Linked DNA regions of Homo sapiens. The main gene of each other region encodes a partner of the protein of the gene in region 4 in a complex. Each region holds a gene or a part of one and is shown on either strand. Other genes may lie near its edges.

Region 1 (7,951 bases), on a different chromosome or scaffold from region 4:
TGCTCTTTTGGACCCAAGCACCTCTGGCCCTCCCCAAAACTTCCCATGGCGTTCTTGTCCATGTGTCCAACTTTCTCAACAGATTCTTAGCTCAGTCTCCCACCCACAGCCTTTTCCTAGGAATTCTCCCATGCCACCCTGTTTTAGCCCTGACCTCTACCCAGTAATCTGCTATTCTCTCTTCCCTTGAAATCGGTCTTTCTCATATTATAATTGCCTTTCTCCTTGTCGTGTCAGTTGCAGGGATGAGAGTATAGGGTGTCCCCAAAATAATCCAATGCATACATACTAGAGCCATCTACCAGTGTGCAGATTATAGATATGTGACTCAAGTGCTATGGAACATTCAAATCTCATTAAAAACACTGAGTAAAGGAAGAGCTAGAATAGGGCTGAAACTAAAAATCTAATCAACAAGAAGCTTGTTATCAGGAAGGAGATCAGCTTCAAGGTGAAAAATGAAATCCACATATCAAGAATTTGTTAGTGTGCCTCCAAGACTATATTTGGCAGAGGGAAACTTCTGATGGTTAGGGTGCTAACCAGTTTGGACATATAATGGTCTTTAACCCAACAAACATTTCTGCTTTCATAACCTGGGTTCCAATGTGCTAAAATAAAGAAGTGACTATATAGGTATCACTTTGTGAACTGTCAGGTACCCTAAGCAGTTGTATTTCTCTCTATAAACAAATCACCTGGCATTTGATCTGTATATCATCCTCCCATCAGTCTGACTGCTATACCCAAGTCCTAACCCACCAAGTGCCTTCTATGGACATCTGTTCATCTCTGTGAGCTCAGACAACAAAGTTCTGAACCTGCAAATATGCAGATCAAAACCTTGACTCCATGGCCGGGCTCAGTGGCTCACTCCTGCAATCCCGGCATTTTGGGAGGCCGAGGTGGGCAGAACACCTTAGGTCAGGAGTTCAAGACCAGCCTGGCTAACATGGCGAAGCCCCGTCTCTACTAAAATTACAAAAATTAGCCACACGTGGTGGCAGGTGCCTGTAATCCCAGCTACTCGGGAGACTGAGATGGGAGAATCGCTTGAACCTGGGAGGTGGAGGCTGCAGTGAACTGAGATCATGCCACTGCACTCCAGCCTGGGTGACAGGGAAAGACTCCATCTCAAAAAAACAAAAACAAAACTTGACTCCACACAAAGATACTGCGAGCCTCCCTCAGGTTAGGTGGTTCAGTTTCCATTCAATGACCATTTTAACCAGCTTCTAACCACAAGGGATCTGAACCTTTAGGGCAACATTCACTGGTCCAGCTCAACTAATGTTTACTGGGTGCTCACTGTGTATCTGGCACTGTGATAAGCACAGTACATCTCATTTAATCCCCAAAATTGGGCCCATTATTATCCCTATTTTACAGATGAGGTCACTGAGGCTAGGAGAGGTTAAGTAACTTGCCCAGTTTCACAGCTGGGAAGCTGTGTTGGAACCTAGACAAAATGAATCCAGCGCCTATTCTAACCAGTTATCCAAACAATATCCTACCAGGTTTCCCTGCTTCCAGTCCCATCGAATATACATGCCAGAGCTAGAGCAATCTTTCTAAACACCACTAAGCTTATGTCATTTTGCTGGTTAAAATCCTTCAGTGGGCAGGGTGTGGTGGCTCACGGCTGTAATCCCAGCACTTTGGGAGGCCAAGGTGGGTGGATTAACTGAGGTCAGGAGTTCGAGACCAGTCTGGCCAACATGGTGAAACCCCGTCTCTACTAAAAATACAAAAAATTAGCCAAGTGTGGTGGCGGGTACCTACAATCCCAGCTACTTGGGAGGCTGAGGCAGGAGAATCGCTTGAACCCGGGAGGTGGAGTTTGCAGTGAACCCTGATCGATCCACCGCACTCCAGCCTGGGCAACAAAAGCAAAACTCCGTCTCAAAAAAATAAAAATAAATTAAATTAAATCCTTCAATGACATGCCTCACCACCACTGAGGTAAAATTAACATGCAAGGCCTTTAGTAACTAGCCTCCTGCCAATTCTTCCCGTCTTCCCTTCTTTCTTCCTTTCTCCTCCAGCAACTTTTTCTCAGTCAACAAACGCAGAAAAATCCAGTAACTTTTTAAATCTTGTTACCCTTCAGCCTTTGTTCCTTCAGTTCTCCGGGTCTGTAATATTCCCCCCATTTTCGCCGGGAACATTCTTGCTAATCTTTTAGGAATCTGCTCAGGAACCATCTATTTGAGAAAACATTCTTACCCCGCCCCGCTGCCGTTACTTTTACCGAATGACCACACTGAATTATATTATGTGTCCCCAGCTACCTCTGTGAAGGAAGCAAACATATTTCAGAGAGTAGCCCCAGCGCCTGAGAAGTCAGGCACAGGCAAACACGGAAACGTGATGAGCAACTGAGTGGAGCTCTTCCTCCATTCGCCATCACCCTCCTCCGCCCTCCTCTCCATCCAGCAGACCTAGCGAGACTCTAGCGTGGTCCACGAGCCCCTTCCACCCACTTCCGCCAACTCTTTCTCAGACTCACAAACTTCCGCAAGTCTGAGCCTTTTACCGGGTCCCCCTGCGGCTCCAGTGCCTGCTCCGAAGCCCGGGACATATATTTATTCGGCAAAAGTTAACTTAGTGCCTACTGGGTCCCAGGAATTATGGCTACAGCGGTGTCGAGAGCCGCGGTTCTACCCTCGCCCCTGCCGAGCGACCTCGGCCTCCGACACCGGTTCCAACCTTTTCCTCGACCCCATGCCTAGCCGAACCGCCAAGGTCCTGGTCTTTCCCGCCCAGACCGAGCGGCCTCGGCCCAGGCCTTCACCGCCCTAAGTGGCTCCAACCCACGGCTTCCTCCCCGATCAGTCGCGGTTCCCACTCCACAACAGACTCGGAAGCTCCCGCGCCGCCAGCCTGTGCCCTCCTTACCATGGTGGCGGTTCTGATGGCTCTGATACCCGCCGGATTCGCCTCCTCAGAGGCCTAGCCTCTCTCCCACAGCCGATTTCCCGCCGCCGCTACCGGAAATGCAGCACCACGTAAAATGCGGTCGGGTAGAAACCTACTTCCGGTCCAGCTCACTAGCCCTGGAGTTCCGGCCCCGGAGCGGAGCTTCTGCCGAGCAGAGGCGGGGCCTGGGGACTGGGCGTTAACATCCGGCTTTGACGTAAGGAGAGCCTTAAGTTCCTGTTTGGACACCTTCCTAGCTTAAATCCGTACTGAGAGCTGCTCTGTGTCACACTCATTTCTCTTCACCCCGCCTTTCCCATTAACCTCTCGGTCCTCATTTCCCATCACCCTCCCCGGCTCTCTCCTCTACAGTCACTATTCTTGCTTTTCCCTCCACTGGCTGGACGTGCTCCTTTTTCAGCCCCTCTGCATTTGCTTTCGCCTCTGCCTGGAATGGTAGTCCCCAAGGTATACCAGAAGGCTGCTGCCCTCACCTCTTTCAAGGTTTAAGCTTAAATAACATTTTCCCAGTGAGGATTTCCCTAGCCATCCTGTAACCTTCCCACCCACCTCATCCTCATCTCTCCTGTATTTCCCTCTTGCTATCTAACACGCTGTATATTTTTGTTAGTTATTTTATTATCCCCTCCCCATTAGAATGTAAGATCCATAAGGGTGTGAATTTTTCTCTTTGTGTATTACTCATTGCTGTAGTGCCTAGAACACTTTAGCACAAAATAAGGGCTCTACCCATATTTGCTGATAATCGCATCCAGTCGTATGACATTTATTTTTTTTCTATGACTTTTTTTTTTCTTTTGAGACAGAGTCTCAGTCTGTCACCAAGGCTGGAGTGCAGTGGCACAATCTCGGCTCACTGCAACCTCTGCCTCCCCGGTTCAAGCGATTCTCCTGCCTCAGCCTCCCGAGTAGCTGGGAATACAGGCCTGTGCCACCACACTCGGCTAATTTTTGTATTTTTAGTAGAGACGGGGTTTTGCCATGTTGGCCAGGCTGGTCTCGAACTCCTGACCTCAACTCCTGGTCTCGAACTCCTGATCCACCCACTTTGGCCTCCCAAAGTGCTGGAATTACAGGCGTGAACCATCACACTGGGCCCTTCCTATGACTTTTAAATACAGCATATACACCCAAGGCTTTCAAGTTTGTTCCTCTAACCTTGGTCTCTTCATTTAACTCTTGGCCCTTTATATCCAGCTGCCAGCGTGATGTGAATGTCTAATAGGTATACCAAATTTAACATGTTGAAAACTGAATTCTTGATTCTATTCACTGTTTCTAAAACCACTTCACCAGTGTTCCCCATCCCCGAAGTTTCTTGGATTAAAAAAGAAAAAAAAGAAAATGACAAATTTGAAGCATATTTCATTCTTCTCTTTCTCTGCCATCGAATAATCAAATTCATCAGCAAATCCTGTGGCCCCCACCTTCAAATTATCTTGAATATGATTGTTGTCACCCACTCCATTGCGTCCACTCTAGTCATAGCCACCATCGTCTCTGTCTTGGATCATTGAACGAGCCCGTAACTTGTCTCTTTGCTTCCTTTCTTGTTCTCACGGCAGCCAGAGGGATCCTTCTAAACGTACTGGGATATCAGATGATGTCATGTCCTGGTCTCCACTTACCAAAAACTTCCCAGCACACATGGAATAAAATCTAGCTCTGCGCTCCTCTCCAACCTCATTCATCTCCGTCAACATTGCCCTCATTCATCCTTCTCCAGTCACACTAATCTCCTTGCTGTTCCTCAAACCCAGCAAGGAGAGCTTCCACCTTGGTGCTTTGCCATCTTCACACCATCTCTAAAGGGTGTGTTCTGTTGTCCCGTTTCCTGTCACCTGTAGATGAAGAGGCGAAGCCTCATAGAAATGAATTATGTTGCCCAAAGTGGCGGAGTCAGAGTGGGAATATAGGTCCGTCTGGCTCCTCAGCTGTTCATTTGCCCCCACCTTACCCAGCTGCCTAACACTTCATTCATGCATGCATTTAAAATCATTTTTATTTAGCATCTACTAAGGCCATGCACCATTATTGGGATAGAGTCCTTTCCCTCACGGAGCTTTACATCCTACTGAGAAAGACATAGTAAACCAAATAAATAAGTATGCAATGTAACATTAGAGTGATATGAAAAAAATAAATAAAGGCAGAGGAACTGAGAGGGATAGGGTACAGTTTTGGCTAGGTGGTCAGGGGAAACTTCTCTGAGGAGTGGTATGTGAGCAGAGACCTGAACCTACACTCAGGTCTATCAGAAGGATGAATATTATGAAGGACATTCTAGAAAATGTATATAAAGGGAATCATATAATAATACGTGGTCTTTTGTGACTACCTTCTTTCACTTAGCACAATGTTTTTAAGGCTCATCCATGTCATGACACGTATCAATACTCCATTCCTTTTTATGGCCAAATAACATTCCATTGTATGGATGTACAGTAGTCCCCCCATATCCATCTTTCACTTTCTGTGGTTTCAGTTACCCACAATCAACTGCAGTATAAAAATAGGTGAGTACAGTACAAGATATTTTGAGACCACATTCATATAACTTTTATTACAGTATATTTTTATAACTGTTCTATTAGTATTGTTAATCTCTTACTGTACCTAATTTATAAATTAAACTTTATCATAGCTATGTATGTATAAGAGAAAATAGTATATATAGGGTTTGGTAGTATCTGCCGTTCCATGAATCCACTGGTGATCTTGGAATATAACCTCCTCAGATAAGGAGGGAACTACCATATTTTATCAGTTCATCAAATGACGAACATTTGGATTGCTTCCACCTTTTGGCTGTTATAAATAATGCTGCTGTAAACATCGTGTACAAGTCTTCACGTGGACATGCTTTCATTCCTCTTTGGTATCCAGATAGGAGTGGAATTTCTGAGTCATATGATAATTCTGATTAACCATTTGAAGAACTGCCAGACTGTTTTCCAAAGTGGCTTCACCATGATACATTCCCACAAGTGGCGTATGAGGGTTCTGATTTCTCCACATCTTCACCCATATTTGTTATTATCTGACTTTTTGATTCAAGCCATCTTAATGTGAAGTGCTATCAATTTCATCGTGGTTTTGATTTGCATTTCCCTCATGACTAATGATGTTGAACATCTTTTCATGTGCTTGTTGGCCATTTATATATCATCCTTGGAGAAATGCCCATTCAGATCCTTTTCTCATTTTTTAATTGGACCATTTGACTTTTATTATTGAGTTGTAAGAATTCTTTCTACATTACAGATACAAGTTCCTTGTCAGATATATGATTTATACAGGTTTTCTCCCATTCTGTGAGTTTTTTTTTTTTTTTTTTTTTTTGAGACAGAGTCTCACCCCATCACCCAGGCTGCAGTGCAGTGGTGCGATCACAGCTCACTGCAGCCTGACCTCCAATGCTCAAGCGATTCTCCCACCTCAGCCTTCCGAGTAGCTGGGACTACAGATGCATGCCACCACGGTGGCTAATTTTTGTTATTTTTTTTTTTTTTTGTAGAGACAGGGTTTCACCACGTTGCCCAAGCTGGATTCAAGCAATCCACCCACTTCAGCCTCCCAAACTGCTGGGATTACGGGCATGAGCCACCATGCCTGGCCTTTTCACTTTCTTGGTAATATCCTGTACAAAAGTTTTTTAATTTGGATGAAGTCTAATTTATCTTTTTGTTGTTGTTGTTGCTCATGTTTTTGGTGCAATAAGAAAAATCTTTTCTGCCAAATCTAAGATTATGAAGATTTACCCCTTTGTTTTCTTCTAATAGTTTTATAGTTTTAGCTCTTACATTTAGATTTTTGATATATTTTTAGTTCATATTTTATATATGGTATAAGGTAGGGTCAAACTGTATTCTTTTCTAAGTAGATATACAGTTAGCTCAGCATCATTTGTTAAAAAGACTCTTCTTTCCCCCACTGAATAATCTTGGCACCCTAGTGGAAAATCATTTGACCATTGACACATGGTTTTATTTCTGGACTTCCAATTCTATTCCTTTGATCTATATGAAGTCAGAAAAAGTGTGAATCCTCCTCCTTTTTCTTTTTCAAGGTTGTTTTGGCTATTCTAGATGCCTTGCAACTCAATTAGTTTGCCAATCTACAAATAAGGGAAAAGAGGTCATGAATTCAGAGCCGGGGATTAAACAGGCAATTCATCTGGTATTTACTTGATAAAATGGTCCCAAGTTTCAGTCTAGATCAGGGGCGGGCAAACTTTTTTAAAATATGTATAAGACTGGTTAGTTTCCAATATTTTTTTTGTTAAGGGCAGAGAGCATTTTAGGGCTATCGAGCCATTTGGTCTCTGTTGCAATTACTCAACTTTACCATGTACCATGGAAGCAGCTATACTCAATACCTAGCAAATGAGTGTGGCTGGGTTCCAATAAAATGTTATTTATGGATACAAATAGATGTCACAAAATATTATTATCCTTTAAATTCTTTGCGACCATTTAAAATGTAAAGACCATTTACATTTTGTGTAAATGTAAATGTAAAGACCATTTACATTTTGTGTGGCTCAAGGCCACACAAAAACATGTGATCAGCAAGGATTGGCATTTAGGCTGTAGTTTGCCAACCTCTGATGTAGACCATTAGATTTCTGTGTCTAGATTCAGGGTCACAGCCCCAGCTGAGTATTCATAATTAATAGTTTTGACTTGCATTATTTATTTGGCTTATCTCTGGGCTCACCAAATATATGCAGTCAAAATTCATGTCTTTTCCCTCATTTTAAAAACACACACATATACCTTCACACTTGTATCAATCTACGTTCGACAGGGAGACAGAAACCATACAGTAATTTAAATTAAAGAATTATTTTGCCAGGGATGGTGGCTCATGCCTTTAATCCCAGCACTTTGGGAGGCTGAGGCAGGCGGATCACCTGAGGTCAGGAGTTCAAGGCCAGCCTGGCAACATGGTGAAACCCCATCTCTAAAAATACAAAAATTAGCCGGCTGTGGTGGCGGGTGCCTATAAT
Region 2 (7,022 bases), on a different chromosome or scaffold from region 4:
CCCCACACACCAGCCACCCCTGCCCCGGCAGGCACAGGGCCCCCCACATCCCCAAGGGCACCCACCGCCTCCTCGTCCAGCTTCTTCATCCGCCGCTCTGTCTTCATCTTGCCTGAGCCCTTGCCATGGAAGCGGTGCGACAGCTGCCGGAAAGCCTGGGGACGCGGGGCATGAGAGGAGATGCAGGGCCCTGGGTGGGGCCGGAGCCACCTGTGCCCACAAGGTGTATAATAACAGGGCGGGTGTTGATTGACCCCAATGCCAGGCCTGGGGTGCAGTGGGAAGGGGATGGGAAAAGAGCACAGACGCTGGCACCCTGCAGGGCCCCAGCAGAGGCCGGGAGACCAGCTTGGCTAGTGGATGCGCTGCCATGGGGGCAGAGCATGGGGAACCTGGAGACCTGCCACGCAGGGGCTGGGCCTGGACGCTGGGGCTGGGGCTGGGGCTGCAGGGAGACAAACCCCAGAGAGCAAGGGGGCAGCTGAGTGGTAGGGCAGGACGGTCGGGCGGCCTACGAGAGTGCTGGAAGGGCCTGGACGCTGGAATGGCCCTGCGGGCCAGGAAAGCCAGTGAAGGGCTCACGCAGGTGAGGACAGGAGGGCAGAGGTCCCGAGTGCCTGTCTGACCCTCCTGCCAGGCTTGCAAAGAGACTGCTGTGCCCACTAGAGACAAACTGAGGCACAGCCTTCCTCAGCCCTGAGGGCCCCCTCCCCATCCGTGGCATTCACCAGGCCCCCAGCCAGAGGCTGGTGGAGCCAGGACCCTGGGGCATTGCATGGCCCGGGGCATTGCATGGCCCTGGGCTTGGCCTCCCTGTGGCAGGCCGGGCCTCCGCCTGCAAAAGGCCCTGCTCACCTCCTTGGGTGTGAGTTTCCGGCCCGTCTCATCCACGTATTCGATCTTAACGTCGGGTTTGTAGCCGTCCTTCTCCTTGAAGTCCTGTGTGAAGCCTCGGTATTCCTCCCTCCGGCTGTACTTGTCATCGATGGCCCTGGCCCGAGACAGAGGAGGCCTTAGTGTGAGGAGCTGCCGCCTGCTGTGGTCCCGAAGCTCCAAGCTGGCACAGGCCCCTCAGCCCTGCACAGGCCCCACCACACTCACATCTTATCCTCGATGCAGTACACGGCTGAGGGCAGCGACTTGTTGGGGGCCTTCACCCGGGCCACCTTCTGCACTGTGGTCTCCAGCAGCCCTAGGGATGGAGGGGTTGTGAGACTCCCAACCCCTCGAGAGCCACAGCTCCAGGGCCGCCTGAGAAGGCAGAGCAGGCCCTGTGGGGGCACCTCCCTTTCCTTGCCTCTGGAAAGCCATCAGGCCTGTTCTACAGGCAAAGCAAAGATGCAGAAATGAGCCCCTTGCCAAGGGTCACTGGCCAGGGAAATGGCAGAGCTGGGGTCCTAACACCAGGGCTCTCTGTGCCACAGCTGGAACAGTTTCAACTCCCCTCTCCTTCCCCAAGCAGGTGTGGAGCCTCAAAGGCAGAGCAGACGGACAGATGCCACAGTGGAGGGGAAGGAGTGGCTCTGGGCCGGACAGCTGGCTCCAGCATTGGGACTGAGAGAAAGGGGCAGCAGAGGGGACCGGAGGGGGCCCTGCCTGCACCTGCAGCAGCACCCAAGCCCACCCAAGTCATGGCTGCCCTGAGCTCCCTACCTTTGTTCTGACACAGGAGCAGGGCAGCTGCCAGCCCCCTATTCACGATCGGTTCCTCGTCCAGGATGGTGGTGGAGGAAGCAGAGAACTACGGGACACGTGGCGGGGGTGGTTAGCAGGCCATACCGGCTCTTCTCAGCCCCACCCACTGGTCACCACCTGCCAGGCACCAGCCCTCCACAACATTTAATTTCCTCATTTACTCCTCAGATCGCCCTGGGAGGTCTGCAGAGCCCACTCTGGATGAGGAGGCTGAGGCTCTGGACACCGAGCCCGGTGCTCATCTCCAGCTTGAGCACCCCCAAACGCCCACCCCCCAGCGGCGCGGCCCTCACATCCTGCTGCTGCTTCTCCTCGTCCAGGTTCACCGTGCTCCAGCCGATGTTCTCCTCCCCGTCAGATTCGGAGCCACCGTTGGCTGAGCGCTCCTCATCCCGTTCAAAGTCCTGGGGCACAAAAGACCAGGGTCGGCCCAGGCCCCAGCCAGCCCACCCAGCCGAGGGAAGCAGAGGGCGGGGCCGCCCCAGACGCACCATGAGCTCCTCCTGCTCCTCGCGATTGCCAGCCAGCCCGTAGGTGGGGATCTCCCCCAAGGTGCGGCAGAACTCGGACGTGGCGTTGAACACGATGGCCCCCTTCCGCTCGGGATCCTCATCCTCCTCCCAGCCCCGCTGGCGAGACTCCAGCTTCTTCACAATCTCCACCACCTGGGGGAGGGAGCGGCTGTGGGCAAACCCAGCAGTTTCTGGGGTGATGCCATTGAGACCCAGGAACCTAAGGGTCCTCCCTGGCAGCAGCCAGACAGGCCACGCCCACAGCCCATGCAGGCCCAGCTGCTATCTGCCGCCTAACTCCACTCTGCACCTCTTTCACTGGGGTCACTCTTCTGCTCCAAACCCATCAATGGGTTTGGATGCCCTTTGAATGAATACCCAACATCCTACAGGGCCTTCCTGACCAGGCCTGTGCCAATCCCCCTCCAAAGCCCCTCACACACTACCTCAGCCTCAAACTCCTTCCTCCAGGCTCCCTCCTGCCACCTGCCCCTCCCCCGACAAACTCCGGTTTCAGGACTCTAGACAGCACTTCTAGAACCCGCAGGGTGGTGAGGTGGCCCACGCTTTTGACTTCCCACAGCCCAGCTTCTCGCTTCCTGCTTCACCAAGAAAGCAGGTTCCGTGACATGGGAAGAGAACTCACTCATGCTGCCAGCACTGAATCCAGCGACCCCCACACGGGCACCAGCACCCTCTGCTTTCCCTCCTGTCGCAGATGCCCAGCCACACACAATGATTACCATCTCCCCTCTTTAAAAAACTTCTCCCTCAACCCTGCAGCCCAGACAGCAAAGTCCTCACTCCTCAGTGAAGGTTCGAGTCACTATGTCCACTTCTGCACCCCTCTTTCATTTTATATTACATTCATTTTTTTAAAAAAATCTTCTGAGGCGGGTGGACTGCTTGAGTTCCGGAGATCGAGACCAGCCTGGGCAACATACCCAAATCCCATCTCTACAAAAAACATAAAAATTAGACATTGTGGTCACACACGCCCATAGTCCCAGCTACTGGGGAGGCTGAGGTGGGAGTACTGCTTGAGCTTGGGAGATCAAGGCTGCCAAGATCACACCACTGCACTCAAAAGAGTGGGCAAGAGTGAAACCCCGTCTCGAAAAAAAAAAAAAAAAAAAATTCTTCCAGGGGCCGGGTGGTTGCTCACATCTATAATCCTAGCACTTTGGGAGGCCGAGGCTGGAGGATCACTTGAGCCCAGGAGTTCGAGACCAGCCTGGACAATAAGGTGAAGCACAGTCTCTACAAAAAACACAAAGATCAACCAGGCATGGTGGTGTATGCCTGTAGTCTCAGCTACTTGGGAGGCTGGGGTGGGTGGATTGCTTGAGCCTGGAGGCCGAGGCTATGGTGAGCCGTGATCTTGCCACTGCACTCAAGCCTGGGCAACAGAGCAATACCCTGTCTCCAAAAAAAAAAAAAAAAAAAGTCTTCCAGGACATCCAGGAACATTTGTTTGTTTGTTTGTCTTTTAATTTTTATTTCTTTTTGAGACAGAGTCTCACTTTGTCGCCCAGGCTGGAGTGCAGTGGCGCGATCTCAGCTCACTGCAAGCTCCGCCTCCTGGGTTCACAGCATTCTCCTGCCTCAGCCTCCCGAGTAGCTGGGACTACAGGCGCCCGCCACCACGCCCAGCTAATTTTTTTGTATTTTTTTTCAGTAGAGATGGGGTTTCACCGTACTAGCCTGGATGGTCTCCATCTCCTGACCTCGTGATTTGCCTGCCTTGGCCTCCCAAAGTGTTGGGGTTACAGACGTGAGCCACCGCGCCTGGCCAGGAACACTTATTTTTTAATGAACATTGTAAACATAAAACGAGGTATATCTAATGCATCATATGCTACTTATTTATTGAGACCATCTCACTCTATCACCCATGCTGGAGTGCAATGGGGCGATATAGGCTCACTGCAACCTCCACCTCCCAGGTTCAAGTGATCCTCCTCCCTCAGCCTCCTAAGTAGCTGGGACTACAGGTGCATGCCTCCACAACCAGCTAATTTTTGTATTTTTAGTAGAGACAGGGTTTCACCATGTTGCCCAGGCTGGTCCCAAAACCAGCTTCAAGTGATCCACTCACCTCAGCCTCCCAAAGTGCTGGGACTATAGGTGTGAACCACCACACCCGGCTGATATGGTTTTTTTTTTTTTTTTTTTTGAGACAGAGTCTCACTGTTGGCCAGGCTGGAGTGAAGTGGCACGATCTTGGCTCACTGCAACCTCCACCTCTCGGGTTCAAGTGATTCTCCTGCCTCAGCCTCCTGAGTAGCTGGGATTACAGGCATGCACCACCATGCTCGGCTAATTTTTTTTTTTTTTTTTTTTTTTTTTAGTAGAGAGGGGGTTTCACCATGTTAGCCAGGATGGTCTCAATCTCCTGATCTTGTGATCCACCTGCCTAGGCCTCCCAAAGTGCTGATATTACAGGTGTGAGCCACCGCACCCAGCGGCTGATATAGTTTTTAAAACATTAACTAAACACACACCCATGTCCCTCTCCCTGGGGCTGGGGCAGCATCACTAATGCCCTGCCCAGACTTGAGTGTCCCCTCCCCATCCATGGTCATGACTCACCGGCTTGTCTTCATGGCTTTAGCACATAAGGACCTGCCCCTGAACAGTTATTTTGTTGTGTATTAATTATTCTATAACCTGAGTCACACTGTATGACTCTTCTGTGATTTGTTTTGTAAAAAAATCTGTGCCCCTGAGAGTAACCCTGATGCACACGGCTGTAGCTCATCAGTTTCCACTATGGAATCACAGCCCGTGAGCTGGATGCTCCTTGATCTGGCTCTCTAGCCCACTGAGGATGGACTTTTTTTGTCCCAAGTACTGCGGCTGCAGGCCCACTGACAATGTCTCCTGGTGCACATGGGCACACTCGGGAGAGGTGTGGGGTGGGCCCCGGGCACGCACACATTCCCTCTCATCTGATTAGACTCCTGCCCATGGCTGTGAGTAGCGTGGCTGAGGACTCTGGCCGCTCCATGTCCTTTACTCCTACTCGCTACTGTCAGGCTTGGACCTTTCTGCGGAATTGTTGGCAGGTGGCAGGTGCCTCACTGTTTTGGTTCACCTTTCTGTGATCCCTCCTGAAACTGGATTCACCGGGTATTTTCCTGGTGAGTTAGGCTTTCTCTTCTGTGAACTGCCTGTCTTATCTACATCTTTCGCCTATTTTCCTGTTGTGTTGATTTGTTTTGTCTGTTTGTATACTCTTGACACCAACCCATTCTTGGTGGTATATATGGGCAAATATCTTCTCTTTTTGGTCTGCCTTTTTATATTCTTCATGGTATGTTTTGTAAAAAAACAAAAAACAAAAAACTTACGTTCTCAATTTCTTTTTTTTTGAGACGGAGTCTTGCTCTGTCACCCAGGCTGGAGTGCAGTGGTGCGATCTCGGCTCACTGCAAGCTCCGCCTCCTGGGTTCACACCATTCTCCTGCCTCAGCCTCCCTAGTAGCTGGGACTACAGGTGCCCGCCACCACGTCTGGTTAATTTTTTTGTATTTTTTTTAGTAGAGACAGGGTTTCACTGTGTTGACCAGGATGGTCTCATCTCCTGACCTCGTGATCCGCCCGCCTTGGCCTCCCAAAGTGCTGGGATTACAGGCGTGAGCCATCGCGCCCGGCCACGTTCTCAATTTCTATGTAGTTACACGTTCACTTTTTTCTTCATGGTTTCTTGAAGAAACTCACCCATGGAACCTGTGGGTTTCTTGGTTTTTTTTTTTTTTTGAGACAGGATCTTGTTCTATCACCCAGGCTATCATAGCTATCTGTGATATAGTCAGCTATAGTCTATCATAGCTGACTATAACCTCGAACTCCTAGATTCAAGCAATCCTCCTGCCTTAGCCTCCGGCGTAGCTGAGGCTTCAGACACATGCTACCATGCCCAGCTAATTAAAAAAACATTTTTAGAGATGGGGTTGGTAGGGGGGGTGGTCTTGCTGTGTTGCCCCAGGCTGGTCTCAAATTCCTGGCCTCAAGCAATTCTCCTGCCTTGGCTATGCTGACAACTTAAAAAATCTTTTCTACCAAAAAGTTATAAATGTAATTTCCTTAATTTGATTCCGAAATGTGAAGTTTTTACTTTGAAGTTCTTAATCTATCTGCAAGGTGTGAGGTATAAACCCAATTTCATTTTTTCCCCAAATAGATAACTGACTGTCCCACGCCCACTCGCTGCACTGACGAGCGACTCTTCCCACTGGGACACGATTCTGTCTCGGGGCCCCGCTGTCTGGTCTCTCTGTTCTGTTAGTCTATCCTTATGCAATCCCACACTGCCACAATGCCCCTACTTTATCCAATTTCAGAATCATTTTCCAGCTTCCAAAATAATCCCTATTGGGATTTTTACTGGAGTTGCATTTAACCTAGAAATGAACTACATGAGATGGACATCTTGACAATATATTGTCCTATCTAGGAATTGTGTAACCCCTAAATTCATATCGGGAAGCCCTAACCCCCAATGACTGTATGTGGACAGAGCACCTTTAGGAGGTGGAAATTGCAGTGAGCTGAGATAGAGTCACTGCACCCCAGCCTGGGTGACAAAGTGAGACACTATCACAAAACAAAACAACCCCTCAATTCCAAGGATCCTTTCTGTTCTCTCCAGCCTTTCTTTCTAGCTCATTGACTGTATTAACTTCAATCCAGTAATTCTTCAACCACATCACGACTCCAGGCCCTGTCCTCACACCCATCATTCTCTGTTATGTCCCTCATTACCCAGTTTAGACTCAGGGGGAAATCAACAGAACCTCTCCTTTGTGAAAC
Region 3 (7,483 bases), on a different chromosome or scaffold from region 4:
GCCGCTTTATTTGGCTTATGTGATATGGGTGACTTTCCACCACCCTCTCTTCCTTCAAAATACCCTTTCACTCTGGACAGGTTTTACATTTCAAGGGAGTGGGGGTAGGAAGGAATCTGATTTCAAGGTAACTTGATAAATTTACTTACATGTAATCTGCCTCGAAGCTCTCGGTCATTTCTCATTTTCACATAAATTCGCTCATCTAGGCTGAGCCTGATAAGATCCAGGGGCTCCTCTACAGTGTTGGTAGTTTGTTGCTGATAAAAGAAACAGGATTAGTAATGTAGTACTAGAGTCAGAGTAGTGCTTAAATCACTGCTATGCTGTGTGACCATGGGCAAGTTATTTAACCTTTTTCTGCCTCAGTCTCCTAATCTGTAAAATGGAGATAATAGTGTCTACCTAATACTGTTTTTGTGAGGCTTAAGTGATATACATGAAGGCTTAGAACAGAGCTTTTCACATAATACGTGCTATATAAATGTAGGTTAAAACACACATACATGAGAAGTTACACAGCAAAATAATCATGACTATACTTTGTTCCCTCAAAATCCAAACTGCCTGACCCAATTTCAGGGCATAGGGTCTCAGGGACTTTAGCTTTATCTCAAATATTATGTAATCATTGGAAAAACACTCACTTAATGCCTACCATACACTAGTCAGAATGCCAAATAGAGGTGTAGGTTTATGGGAAGATTATGAATTCAGCACAGGTTGAGTTTAGGCTGCCAACTGGTGAATAAGATAAATATATTTAGTAGCCAGTATAGAACACTGGTTGAAAGCACTGGCTTAGCCGGGCATGGTGGCACATGCCTGTAGTCCCAGCTACTCCAAGGGCTGAGGTGGGAGGATTGCTTGAGCCTGGCGAGGTGGAGGTTGCAGTGAGCCAAGATCGTGCCACTGCACTCCAGCTTGGGCAACAGAGTGAGACTCTTGTCTTTTTTTTTTTTAAAAAAAAAAAAAAAAAAAAAAAAAAAAAAAAAAAAGGCAAGCAAGCACTGGCTTTGGAGTCAGGCAGTCCGGGTTCAACTCCTGGCTGTGACCTGACATTTATGAACTGAGATTAAAAATCATGCCATCTGTAATTCTCAGATTCTTCATTTGTAATTGAGAAAGCCACAACCTTCTTTCTGGGTTCTTATGAGGATTAAACTAGTTAATGCATTTAAAAACAGTGCCAGGAAAACAGAAAATATTAATATTTAGAAATGGTTCCTATTGGCCGGGCGTGGTGGCTCACGCTTGAATCCCAGCACTTTGGGCGGCTGAGAAAGGCAGATCACCTGAGGTTAGGAGTTTGAGACCAGCCTGGCCAACATGGTGAAACCCCATCTCTACGAAAAATACAAAAATTAGCCAGGTGTGGCGGCACGCACCTGTAGTCCCAGCTACTTGGGAGGCTGAGACAGGAGAATCACTTGAACCCAGGAGGCAGAGGTTGCAGTGAGCTGAGATCACGCCACTGCACTCCAGCCTGGGCGATAGAGTGAGACTCCATCCAAAAAAAAGAAAAGAATAGAAAAAAAAAGGAAAAGAAAAGATTCCTATTAATATTATATTATTACAGAACTGCTGGAAACATTGGTTTTAGAGGTCAGGGCTAGGATGACTTGGGGTCACCCACATGGAAGGGATGGTTGCAGCCGCTAAGAGTTAGAAAGATTATTCAAGGAGAGCTTCTTCAGTAAGTACACAAGGCCAGTGGAGGAAGGTAACTGAATTGGTAACAGGCTCTGAAGATTCAAAAGGCCTGATGAGAGAAAAAAATAACCTAACTCAACTGGTCCCTATGTCCCTCAGTTCAACAAGTGTTTGTTAAAGGATCAGATAACCAACTGTTAGATTACAATGATAGAGAAGTCACAATCCCCACCCTCAAGGAGCTCATTCTACTGTGGAGAGGCATACAAATAATTATAATACTGTAAGAATATGCACATGAAAAAGCCCTACTGCTACCTAAGCCTCTGTCTGGGATGCCCACTGTCTGCTCTTTTCATCCTGTAGCTTTAAATATTGGCTTCTCAAAGAGGCTTCCTCTGATCATCTAACTCATTCACTCAAATATTTTTTGAGTGTTTCCAGCACTGTTCTAAACCCCAAAGACAAAAGAATGAACAAAACAAAATCCCTGCTCTTATGGCATTTACATTCTAGTGGGGAGAGATTCACATTAAACAAAGATGCATACATTTAATATGAAAAAATAACTCTCTATGAAGAAAAATGAGGCAGGGTAACCAGAGTAGCGGGAGTGCTATTTGGGCAGAAGTCCTCTCTGAGGAGGTCAGATTTCAGTAGAAAGTTTAAGTTGTGGCATGATCTCCAAAGATATTTGAGGAAGAAAAAGACCAGGTGAAAAAGCTTCTAGGACCATCTGTTATTCTGCATACCAGTTCCTTGTTTCCTTCACAGCACATCACAGTTCCTGGAAGTCTTACATATTTATATTTACTTTTATCTGTTCTCCTCGCAAATATAAGCTCCAAGTAATGGCAAGGATCTCTTATATGTCGATGTCAGTGTCCCTGGCCCTTAGAACAGTGCCTAACCATACAAAGCTGATGTTCACTCTATCTGCTGAATGAATAAATAATTGTTGCGCTCACTAATGATAACAACTCCTAACTTTATTACCTGGCTTTCTATTGGAATCCTGACAGCTCCATGAGGTAGCTAAGGATAATAATCTACAGATTTAAAAAAATGAAGCGAAGAGTGTGAGAATAGTCATCAGGTGGGCTTCTAACAGGAAAAGGTCTCAGGGCCTACGGCAAAATTCGGAGGGGGGGTTACGGAAAGGACAGGGTGGATTAGGCCATGGTGACTTGGAGAGAGGAGGCACGACTGGCCATTTTTCCTGAGTCTGGAAAAAGCAGCCTAGTACAAGAAGCTCCTTCGAGCGACCTCCTTAAAATACACTTACCTGGTCTACGTCGTCCGCCATGTTTCAAACCCTGCGCCCTTTCCCGCCTCTCGCGAGAACACAAGAGCAACGTCAATCTCCGGAAACGTGAGGATACAATACACCGGAAATAGAGAGAAACCTGTTGTGCTCTTTCCTGCTTCCCGCAGTTTTTTAGTGGCCACGGGTATGGGGTGGAGCTTCCTTTAGGGGCGTGACTAGGCCTCCAACGAAGGGGCGTGGCCAAGCGCACCGCCTCGGGGCGGGGCCGGCGTTCTAGCGCATCGCGGCCGGGTGCGTCACTCGCGAAGTGGAATTTGCCCAGACAAGCAACATGGCTCGGAAACGCGCGGCCGGCGGGGAGCCGCGGGGACGCGAACTGCGCAGCCAGAAATCCAAGGCCAAGAGCAAGGCCCGGCGTGAGGAGGAGGAGGAGGGTGAGAGCGAGGCCCAGCGGGCTTCGCGGGAGACGCCGCCGGTGGGCGGAGGAGGCCCAGAGGCAGGGCGGGAGTCCAGACGCGGAGGCCTGGTGGAGGTTGCTGCGCGCGTTCCGCGCCGTGGGGGCAGCCCGGCAGGCTGCGGCCGGCCCTCCCCGCTGTCCCCGCGTCTTTGTCCTGCGCACCCAGAGCGGTTTCCCGCGAGCTTCGCCCGATCCAAGCTCCTGCGTAGCTTTTTTCCCGCTCCCCGTTGTCCAGAGGATACAGATGTTCAGGGTTGAACTCGGAGAAGGCAGTTATTTGTGTCCCAGGAAGACAGACGGACGGACCAGGACGTAGAGTGATGCAGTGTGCTGACTCCCGAATGATAACTTCAGCTGAGTCTCACCCAGAGTTCCACAGTGGGATCCCACCTGACTTCCCCTCATGGATATTTGATAGGCTTCTTACATTTGTCATGGGCAATGCAGAACTCATGGTTTTCCTCTTTAAATCTATGCTTTCCTCCGTTTTTCCAGTCTCAATACTTGTTATAAAGCAAAGCCCACCTTTTTCTTATGTCCACACATCCAGTCCGTCAGCAAGTCCAGTCAGTTCAGCCTCAAGAGTGTATTTCAAATTTGTCCACTTCTCTTCATTTCCATGACCACAGCCCCTGTCCAAGTCATCATCACCTTTCAGTTGAGTGACTGCAGTTTCCTCTTTACTGGCCTCCCAGCTCTGCATCCAGCAACCCAAATAATCTTAAAAAAAAAAAAAATCATGCCCTGCTCCTGCTTTAAACTCCCCTTGGTTTTCCATTGCTCTTAGCTTAAAATCCAGTTGTTTTATCCTGGCCTACAAGATACTACATGTTTTGGCTCTTGCTACCTCTCCTGTTTCTCTTACCACTTGTTTCCTTGCCAGATACCCTCCTTATTGGCCTCCTTTCTCTTCCTCAAATATGCCAAGTTATTCCTTGAGTCTTTTCCTTTGATGTTCCTTCTGCCTAGAGTGAACCCCCCATGGCTTTTACCAGGGCTGATTTTTTCTATTTCTTCAAAACTCAAGTTAGACATTCCTTGAGCAAACTAAGGTGGTCCTTCCCAGATACCCCGCGGATACTAAAACCTGTGATGCTCAAGTACCTTATATCAAATGGCCTAGTGTTTCCATGTAACCTATGCACATCCTCCGACATACTTTAAATCATCTCTAGATCACTAATAATACCTAATACAATGTGGATACTATGGAAATAGTTGTCATGCTGTATTTTTTAAATTTGTATTTTTTTTCCCGAAATATATTCATCTGTGGTTGGTTGAATCTGTGGATGCAGGGCCCGTGGATTGGTAGGGCTAAATGCTAAATAAATATTTTATTTATTTTTTATTTTTTTCGAGACAGTGTCTCACTCTGTCGCTGAGGCTGGAGTGCAGTGGCGTGACCTCCGCCTCCTAGGTTCAAGTGATTCTCCTGCCTCAGCCTCCCGAGTAGCTGGTGTTACAGGTGCCTGACACCATGTCCGGCTAATTTTTGTATTTTTGTATAGATGGGGTTTCGCCATGTTGGCCAGGCTGGTCTCAAACTCCTGACCTCAGGTGATCCGTTTGCCTCGGCCTCCCGAAGTGTTGGGATTACAGGCATGAGCCACTGCGCCCGGCTAGTAAATATTTTAAATAATTGCAAAATGCAGGCTGTAGAAGGAATTTCTGGGTCTCCTGAAAAAACTGGGTAGATTAGACTAGGTAACCGGCAAAGGCTATCACACTAGATTCTGTTTCTATACCGGTTATAAATTCATCATCCATTAGGAAATAGTGAAATGGTAATAATTCGTAAACTTAGGAGGTGATTTACCTCATATGTAATATTACGAGTTCCATTTTATTCACTCATTTACTCATTCAAATAACATCTTTTGAGTATCTACTATGTGCTGTACATGAATGAGGTGACATGAGAGATAAACATATCTTGGAGGATCATAGAGTAGTGTTGACATGACATTTACATGTAAAACATTCAAGGCAAAGTGTGCTAAATATTGTGGAAGAAGGTACAAGGCTTTGTAGCTTCCAAAGGATTAATCAAGTTTGACTGGCGTGATCGGGGAACGCTCTCTGAAGTAGTTTGATCTGTGATTTAAAGGATGGTTGGTATTTTAGCAAGGGGTCACAAAAAGGGGCCGGTATTCTAGTCAGAATGTAATTTGGATATATGGCAATTAAAAATTTACGGTTTTAATCTGATGGAAATGCTACCTGTATTCTTCCCAGCTCAACACTTCACCTCGGTTCCAGCTTGGTAGAGCTTCAATTCTTAGTTTTATGCACTTGGGTGAATTATTTTGGACAAATGTTTTAGCCCTTCTGAATTTCCTCTGTGAAATGTAATAACTGCCTTGCGGGGTGGCTGTGAGTTTTCAGTGGGATAGCATATAAAGCCAAGAGCTTTAGCTTTACCCATGTTAGGTAAATTAGTTGGGCTAGCTGGTGTCATTCAGCCTAAACGGAGGTAAAGATGCACCCAAGTTTATTCTGCTAGCCAGAGGAGCTAGCAGTCAGTTCCCAAGGCAGCTTCCAGGATCTGCAGAGTTACAACCTTTGTTGTGGTTTGGTGGTTTTGTGGGGAAGCATAGACTTAGCAAGTATGGTTTGGGCTGCAGATGACAATAATTTGGTGACTGTCAGTGTAGTTGCTAACACTGTAATAGTGTAGGTTTTAATAGCACCCCTGTACATGCAAATGAAGGTGATACTTGGCTGCTTTTGACAAATAGGAGAAAAGAAAACAGGCTTCCACATGATTTCCTTTGTGTTACTAAAGCACCTCTGGTTTCTTTTCATTTCTTCTCTGTGTTAACACCTTCAGTGATATCCATTAATTCCTTCAACAGCTGTTTATTGAGCGCCTACTATTTTCACACACTGTTCCAGGTACTAGGATAATATTGAACAAGACAGATGAGGCACCTGCTCTCATGATTATAATCTGGGGGGAGGGGTACTTAGAGCAGATAACAAGTTAAAAAAAAACGGATTCACATGATGATAAGAGCTATCACCCTGTGCTAAGACTGCTGTGATAAAACTTATTTGGGTACATAGCAGAAAATGCTTCTATAGATGAAAAGAAAAACCCTCAAACTTATATGGGGCTGGGGGAGAGGCAGCTAAATGGGAATCAGTGTCAGGGAAGGCCTTTGTAAGGAGGTGGCATTTTGAGGCATTTAGTGTAATTTTGAGCCATTCATAGGAAGTTCTGGGGAAAAGAGTTCTAGGCAGAGAGAACAGTGTGTTTAAACACTCTTAGGAGGGAATGAACTTGGCCAGTTGGCTGGACACAGCGAGCGAGGGGCTGGGTAGGAGAAGTGAGCAAGGGCCTGAGCTTGGATACCAAGCTAAGGAGTTGGAATTTTATTCTGAGTGCTATGAGTTGCTGCTGGAAGGTTTACTCCGGTGTTCTTATTAAATCCCAGTAGATGGGCAAGCAGACCACAGTGGTAATTCCTGCCCTACTGAAAGAACACTGAACTCAAGGAGTCTGGTTAGGCATATTAGATAACTCAAGATTTTGGAGAGTCCTGGAAAAGAGTCTCTAGATGCTTAGGGACCAAAAAATAGCAGAGAACAGAAAGTCACCCATATTTCTGCCATCCAGAAATAGCCACCATGAAATAGTGGTCTGTTTCCTTCTAGTCTGTTTTTTATATAGCAGAAAGCATACTGTAAAATCAACTTTGCATGAGTAACATTACATCATATATCGTTTTTCTTTATCTTAAAGGATGACTCAATTATATTTTGTTGTGTGGCTCTGCCATAAGTTACTTAACAATTATCTCATGGTTGGACATTCAGATTATTGTTAGATGCTTTTGAATACTATGAACATCCTTTTGATTCAGAGTTTTTGTGTTTCCTTTATCCCCCTTTCCCTTTTAACTCCTCTACCTTTCTCTTCAAACGGAAATAAAAGCTGTGCTTTTTAACCAACTAGAAAAGTTTGTGATGCCTCTGAAGTATCCTCCTACGTGCATTTTTTTAGATTAGTAGAAATTGAAGTGTTTAGCATCTTTGCCTATTATTAGAGGGCTAACTACCATTGTAAGATCCAGAAATCTTGATTTTAGGGGCACCCTCCT
Region 4 (7,178 bases):
CAGAGAAATACAATGGACAGATGCAAAGAAATCTATCTCATGTGATTTGAGTTATGCCACTGAGCAGAAGACATGAAAATCCTTATTTCTTGGCAATGTTTACCTGTAAGTTTTTACCTACTCCTGGCGTATTTACAGTTTAGGGTGAAAAGAATTTGAAAAGCAAAAATTGCAAGGAAACATTACAATCCAAGTAATTGCAGCACTAGACTAATAGATCAGTGTCTGAGGAGGCGATCAGATAGGCAGAAGAACAGCTCTCTAAATCCTCCCTTCGGACACAGTGGAGTTCCTCGCTGTCTTTTGAAGGCTTCATACCAATCCCTCCTTCCTCGGCAGCAGGGGCTACTTCTCTCCCTCTCTCCCAAAGGCGAAGTGAGTCCACTCAGAGCACCTCTTTCCACTCTCAGTCATGGCCCTTATCAGGCTGTTTCGTAATTTTTCCATTTGCTGACTGGTCTCCCGTGCGAATTTAAAGCTTCTTGGGGACAGGGAAAATATCTTACTCACTTGGTGTCCCTGGTACCTAAGCACACTACCCAAGTCTGTGGAAGAGACATTCAAGGCCAGTGCCAAGCAAAATCCCTGTCCAGCCCCCATCAGCCCAAACTATGGATACAGTGACCAGTAGGATCATGCATGTACTTCAACAAATACTAACCAAGTAATCTCTATTATGAGCACCAAAAACTGAGAAAACAACTGTTTGTGTCATTCAAGAACCAGCTGTTTCCAAATCTAGAGATGCTTGTTAAAATGCAGATTTTCCCGAAGTCTACTCAGGTAAAGGCACTGTATTTTACATTTTATAAAGTTCTCCAGATAATTTCTATAAGCAAATGGTTCTCATCTAGGGGCAGTACCCCCAACCCTGCCCCACCCTGCTCAGGGACACTTGGAAATATCTGGGGACACTGAACTGTCATGACTGAGGAAGGTGGTGCTACTGCTATCCTAGTGGGTAGAGACCAGGGATGTTGCTAAACATTTTACAACTAACAGGACGGCCCTCCACAACAAAGGACTGCCCAGCACAAAATGTCAATGGAAGTTGACAATCTCTGCTATAAGCCCTAAATAAAAAAATAAATAAAAATAAATAAAAATAAAAAAAATTGTTCTTTGGTTTTAAAGTGAGGAGTTTTAAAGAAATCTCCAAGGTACCGCAAATGATAACCAAAAGCTACATTCTAACCAAATGATGGAGTGTAGGTTATAATTAATCAGGGGTGTTTTATTCTAACATATAGGGAACCTGAAAACAACTGTCAAAATCTTGAAGGGGTTGCCATTCTAAATAATGGATTTCTAGTCTTGGCCATGAAAATGATCACTTTCCAATTTTTCAGTGTTACAGGTCTCTCCGATGATTAAAATCTGTTAGTACACTTTTAAAAGGAGAGAATAACCCAGGTGATGTAAACAAATTTTTAAATTCTAGTATCTACTATGCCACAGTTCAGTGAGAGACTGCCTGATACAGCACAGAGTACTCACTTGGGAGGCAGGAAACCTGAGTTCTAATCCCAGCTCTGCTACTTAATTAGCTGTGTGACTTGGATAACTCATAATTTCACTTCTCATGGCCCCAGGTTCCTCATCTGCAATATAAGGGAGTTATGCCAGATGACCACTTAAGTCTCTTCCTGCCCTAACATTCAGGTAGTCTAACGCATTAACGCCAGTGACACACACACACACACACACACCACAAACACAAGCCTCTCAAGATTTCTGCACAATATTTAAGCAAGTAAAATTACCAAACATCTCTAAAACTTTTTTGGAAAACACTGCAGCAATGTGTATGAAGGCCTAAAACAGACCTTTCAGATGACAGCATCTAATCTGATAATTTCACTTCTGAGAATCTAGTCCAAGGAAATAATCTAAAAAATAGGGGGAAAAGAGTTTATCAAAGCACTATCTGGGATGCTAAGATGATGTAAAAATTCAAAAACAATCTAATGTCCCACAATCGGGAAATGACTGAATAATTTACGGGACCTAAACTGGGACCCACAATGATAGGACAATCAAAAGAAGATACAAAATTAGAATAATATTTAGGAAGAGTTTTTAAATGGAAGTGGAAAACTACACTGTTAAGTGATTAAACATGTACACTCTTAGTTCAAGTAGAAGCTAGCACATACAAGAGAAAATGATCGTAGGTGAAAGGGTTCAGTGAATATTATTTTCTTCACTAAAGTCTTCTATGTTTGCAATTTTCTACAATAGTCACGTATTACTAAGAGCAGTGGGGCAGGGTAATCCGCATCATCTTAATCCTACACACCTTAAAAATGCCTGCTATGCAGGTGTGCGGACACGCATACGCACAGAAAACCTTGGGCGATAGGACTTAAGACCATACAATCGGGTTCCTCGACCTGACAACTTGGTAAGACAGGCGAGTCCAGCCTTTAATTCCTGTGGTCAGGCGCAGCCACCCCGATGTAGGAGAGGGTTCGCAATTCCCTGAAGCCCTCCTGGAAGACAGGCGAAGCCTAGGCCTGGGTTCGGGATCCGCTTTCCCGCCGAATCTTGGGATTAGCGTCGGGGCTCCCTGGGGAACTTCAACAACCTGAATTGATCTCGGACGCCAACTCGGTAGGAGCCGGGACGGTGCCGCTCCTCTCCGCGCAGTCTAGGCGCCTCGCTGAGGGCGGTCCCGGCGCCCACCATCAGACCTCTCCCAGCCATTCCATGCGCGGAGAGCTTGGACGCGGCATTTCGCGGGGACCCGCCACCCAGCGGTCCCTTCCCGGAGCCCCAGCCTGTTCACCGCAGGCCCTTTCCGGGGCTGCCTCGCCCGGCCTAGGGCCGCTGCAGCCGCCGCTCCACAGCGCGACTGAACACTGGGGCACCGAACCTGGGGCTGCGCCCGGCCCCGTCGTCGGCCCGCGCAGCGGTGCGGCTCACCTCGCCGGCGGGAACCAGAACCCTCACTCCAGGCGCCCCACGAGCCCGGCCGCCGCGGATGATCCCAGCCAAAACCGAAAGCGCCGAGGCAGGGGCACTTTTCTGCCTCAGCCAATCAGTGCTCTTCTCTGCTACGGCAGCCCGCTGGGGCCGAAAAAGCCTGTCAGCACCAAAGCGCGCAAATCCAAGATTCCTGGTTTGTCTAGTAGCAAAATTGGTGCAGTGGAGTTCCTCTAACAGAAATCTGAGTACAAAACAAATACAATACAAAACAAAAACAAAATTCCAGGAAACTAGAAGTGATCTTTTGGGCAGGATTTATTTACAGAAGTGTAAAAAATAACTTGAAGTCATAGGAAACTGGAATTTACTGTTTAAGTAACGGCATTGTGTACCCAGAAACGTCCTTGAATAGTTTAAAGCAAATAAATAAATAAATGAAACACCTCAAGTCTTTAAATCTACCTCTGGATATTGATTAAATGTGTGAAGACTTAAGCCATTTTAGCAAGAGACTGTTTCCATGGCAATGTTAATTGATACAAAAATAATCAAAATCACTCAAGTAACTCCAAATTATAATGACATTAATTGTGTTACATTACTAGTTCCTATTGGAAATGGTGTGCAGACTTATTTCAGTGCTACTATGGGAACTTGGTTTGGAATTTTGCATGAATTCTCAATACTCTTTCTATTAATGGAATTGAAAGGGAAAAAGAAGAGAACTGTTACACCAGGACTTGATTCGTTTTTCCCCCTCCACATATACTCTCATCAGTTGAAAACTTATACTTTAATTATATTTATGATTTGTAACACTATACACAGAGTGATAAGATCTTTCAACACAGATCCTTAACCCCATTAGGTGTTATAAAATCTAAGATGCAAAATTTTTTTCGAAGATAAAGAGTTCCTCCCTTGTAAACTTCTTTTGGTTAAAGGCAGAAGAAATGAACTTTTGATTGATATCAGGGACAGAAAACAACTGGATATGATTTGTTAAAGAATAGAGACTTCCTTATATCCTTCTATAAAAGTTCAGTTTGGATAAAGACCGAACAGTTACTGATTTATTGTGAGGGCTGTATTTGAAGTTCTTGCAATATAAAATACAATGTAAATAAAAATTTTAAGAAAAGTACCATTTAAATCAAATAATTACGTGCAAAGAACAAACATAATAGGATAAAAAGCCCTGTTCCTAAAAACTTTCTTTGCAAACGACATCAAATTGCACATTCCTTACTGATTGTTTAAATTATTAAAAAAAAAAAGAAAATTTTTGATTCAAACTTCTTTCCCTTTCCTACAGAGCCCTAATCGAGCCGTTAACACTAGTGTGGTGGGTAGGGAGCCATGAGGAGTTTTAAGGGCCTAGTTCATCTGCTGAGCAGCTGCAACCTTCTCTAAGGGGAGTAGCTGGGTAAGGGCCCAGTTTGACACACGGGGTGGGCATCCTGAATTAATTCATGAGCTAACAAGCTTATAAAAAGTGTGGCTGTTCCCAAAAGCCCCTCAGCAGCTTATAAATGACTTTTACTAACTCACAAGGCAATTTTCCGTATTTCCCAGGTTTTTGCTTTCAGCATCTTTTATGATGCAAAGAAAACACTGCAAGACTTTTGGTGAATACTAGTCTTCAAAACCCTGAATGTAAACATTAATTTATTAAGGAGCCTTAAAGTCATAAAAATATTTTGGCAAGCTTTAGTTTAACTTATGTAGTTTAGTTTCATTTAGTTGTTAGGACTGATGAACCTACACTGACACATCATTATCATCCAAAGGCCAAAGTTTACATTAGGGTTCACTCTTGGTGTTGCACATTCTATAGGTTTTGACAAATGCATAATGAAATGTACCCACAATTACAGTATCATACAGAATAGTTTCACTGCCCTAAAAATTCTCTGTGCTCCACCTATTTATCCCTTCCTCCCCACTGGCAACCGCTGATCTTTTTTCTGTCTCCAAAGTTTTGCCTTTTTCCACAATATCATATATTTGGAATCATACCGTACACAGTTAGTGGTGCATACACTGCACCACCCCACTGTGTAGCCTGTTCAGACTGGCTTCTTTCACTTAGAAATATGCATTTAAGACCCCTCTGCGCCTTTTCATGGCTTGACAACTCATTTCTTTTAAGTTCTGAATAATATTCCATTATTTGGATGTACCACAGTTTATTTATCCATTTACCTACAGAAGGACATCTTGGTTGCTTCCAAGTTTGGGAAGTTATGAATAAAGCTGCTATGAATATGTGTATGCAGGTTTTTGTATAGAAATAAGTTTTCAGCTTATTTGGGCAAATATCAAGGAGTATGACTGCTAGATCATATAGCAAGGGTATGTTTAGTTTTGTAAGAAACTGCCAAACTGTCTTACAATGTGGCTGTACCATTTTGCATTCCCACTAGGAGTGAATGAGAGTTTCCATTGTTCCACATCCTCATGGGCATTTGGTGCTTCCAGTCCTTTGGATTTTGACTAGTCTAATAGCTGCTTAGTGACTATCTCATAGTTGTTTAAAGTTGTAATTCCCTAGTGACATATGATATGGAGGATCTTTCTATATACTTATTTGCCATATGTATATCTTTGGTTGTTCAGGTCTTTGGCCCAATTTTGAATCAGTTTGTTCTTTCTTTTTGTTGAGTTTTAAGAGTCCTTTGTATATTTTGAATAATAGTTCTTTATCAGATATGTGTTTTACAAATATTTTCTCCCAGTTTATGGCTTGTCTTTTCATTCTCTTGAAGCTATTATGCTTAAAATAGACAAATGCAGATATATAAATGCTAAGAGAACTCTTGCCACTTCATTGTTTGTCCCTTCTACAGTTCTATAGTACATATGCCTTTAAATAACTATGTCCTTCAATGTTTCATATTCATAAAAGATGGTCTCATGTCTAGCTTATTAAACACCCAACAGCCCTGTGAACATGTAGATGAATGTATTGTGATGTTGTTGTGGTTGTTGTTGATGATGATGATGATGATGATAAATACAAACATGTAATTGGATTGACCAACACTCTCCAAAGCAGATTTTAATATGTAACATGGATGTTAAGCTTCCAAGAATACTGGCTGGTCTTGTTGGAGCAATGCATTAACTGGTATGAAGTGCTGGCATGGACCTGAACCTTTCCTGGACCTTCAGACTGTACAATAGGAGCTCATAAGCTGTGATGTGCTAGTTTTGGATACTTGGGGCCACCATTATCTGCCTTTAATCATGGGATATGAAAATTATTTGTTATAGAAAATGAAGAGAGGCCGGGGGCAGTGGCTCACACCTGTAATCCCAGCACTTTAGGAGGCCAAGGTTGGCGGATCACTTGAAGTCAGGAGTTCAAGACCAGCCTGGCCAAGATGTTGAATCCCGTCTCTACTTAAAATTAAAAAATTAGCTGGGTGTAGTGGCACATGCCTGTAATCCCAGCTACCTGGGAGGCTAGGCATGAGAATCTCTTGAACCCGACAGGCTAAGGTTGCAGTGAGATGAGATCATGCCACTGCACTCCAGTCTGGATGATAGAGCGAGACTGTTTCTTAAATGAAGAAAGAAAGAGAGAAAGAAAGAAAGAAGAAGGAAAAAAGAAAGAAAGAAAGAAAGAAAGAAAGAAAGAAGGAAGAAAGAAAGAAAGAAGAAAGAAAGAAAGAAAGAAAGAAAGAAAGAAAGAAAGAAAGAAAGAAAGAAAGAAAGAAAGAAAAAGAAAGAAGGAAAAGAAAGAGGGAGGGAGGGGAAAAAAGAAAATAAGGAAACAGACAGACACTCTCTGGTTGTTGAATACCTTCTAAGAAGTGATACAAGCTCATTGACTGGTGGGCAAATTTCTCAGAAAAAGTAGTATGTCGTTTTGCTTACCCAAGGAAGTGATATATTCTACATCATGGGCGCTTGGTTTCAGATGTAACATGTGAGATGTTTAAATAATGTTCGGACTTCATCAGCCATCATTTTGGCATGACTTGAATTTTAAAAGAGATAGGATCAGAGTCTGAGCTCCTGGAAGGAGAATCTCCCAAATGCTGTGATGCTTTATACTCCACCGTGAACTCTAGAAAACCTCTCTCAGCTGTAAAATTTAGTGAAATCGGTGTGAAGCTGCCCTTGTATTTTAATCAAGATGAACTTGAAAGGTGAACATTATAAGTGGGAGAAATTATTTATAATTTGGTAATAAAAGTTTATGTCTAACACTCCAAATTTCATACATCTGCTATGTGCTGGCC

The links.
Region 1: LSM6 (region 4) and SNRPB share a complex: the UniProt entries of both Homo sapiens proteins name them as parts of the U4/U6-U5 tri-snRNP complex.
Region 2: LSM6 (region 4) and SART1 share a complex: the UniProt entries of both Homo sapiens proteins name them as parts of the U4/U6-U5 tri-snRNP complex.
Region 3: LSM6 (region 4) and LSM3 share a complex: the UniProt entries of both Homo sapiens proteins name them as parts of the precatalytic spliceosome.

The regions. Positions count from the first base shown.
Region 1 is NC_000020.11:2,467,790-2,475,740, forward strand, and holds the start of SNRPB (small nuclear ribonucleoprotein-associated proteins B and B'), read right to left. Parts: upstream 3,001-7,951; 5' UTR 2,902-3,000; coding exon 2,899-2,901; intron 1-2,898. UniProt on the Homo sapiens protein: Plays a role in pre-mRNA splicing as a core component of the spliceosomal U1, U2, U4 and U5 small nuclear ribonucleoproteins (snRNPs), the building blocks of the spliceosome.
Region 2 is NC_000011.10:65,971,733-65,978,754, reverse strand, and holds part of SART1 (U4/U6.U5 tri-snRNP-associated protein 1), read right to left. Parts: intron 2,377-7,022; coding exon of another isoform or gene 2,361-2,376; coding exon 2,187-2,360; intron 2,100-2,186; coding exon 1,989-2,099; intron 1,742-1,988; coding exon 1,654-1,741; intron 1,193-1,653; coding exon 1,102-1,192; intron 992-1,101; coding exon 856-991; intron 156-855; coding exon 66-155; intron 1-65. UniProt on the Homo sapiens protein: Plays a role in mRNA splicing as a component of the U4/U6-U5 tri-snRNP, one of the building blocks of the spliceosome. May also bind to DNA.
Region 3 is NC_000003.12:14,174,337-14,181,819, reverse strand, and holds the start of LSM3 (U6 snRNA-associated Sm-like protein LSm3), read right to left. Parts: upstream 3,004-7,483; 5' UTR 2,960-3,003; coding exon 2,939-2,959; intron 261-2,938; coding exon 150-260; intron 1-149. Other genes in the region: XPC (DNA repair protein complementing XP-C cells), read left to right, coding at 3,252-3,354. UniProt on the Homo sapiens protein: Plays a role in pre-mRNA splicing as component of the U4/U6-U5 tri-snRNP complex that is involved in spliceosome assembly, and as component of the precatalytic spliceosome (spliceosome B complex).
Region 4 is NC_000004.12:146,171,559-146,178,736, reverse strand, and holds the start of LSM6 (U6 snRNA-associated Sm-like protein LSm6), read right to left. Parts: upstream 3,020-7,178; 5' UTR 2,926-3,019; exon of another isoform or gene 2,300-2,925; intron 1-2,299. UniProt on the Homo sapiens protein: Plays a role in pre-mRNA splicing as component of the U4/U6-U5 tri-snRNP complex that is involved in spliceosome assembly, and as component of the precatalytic spliceosome (spliceosome B complex).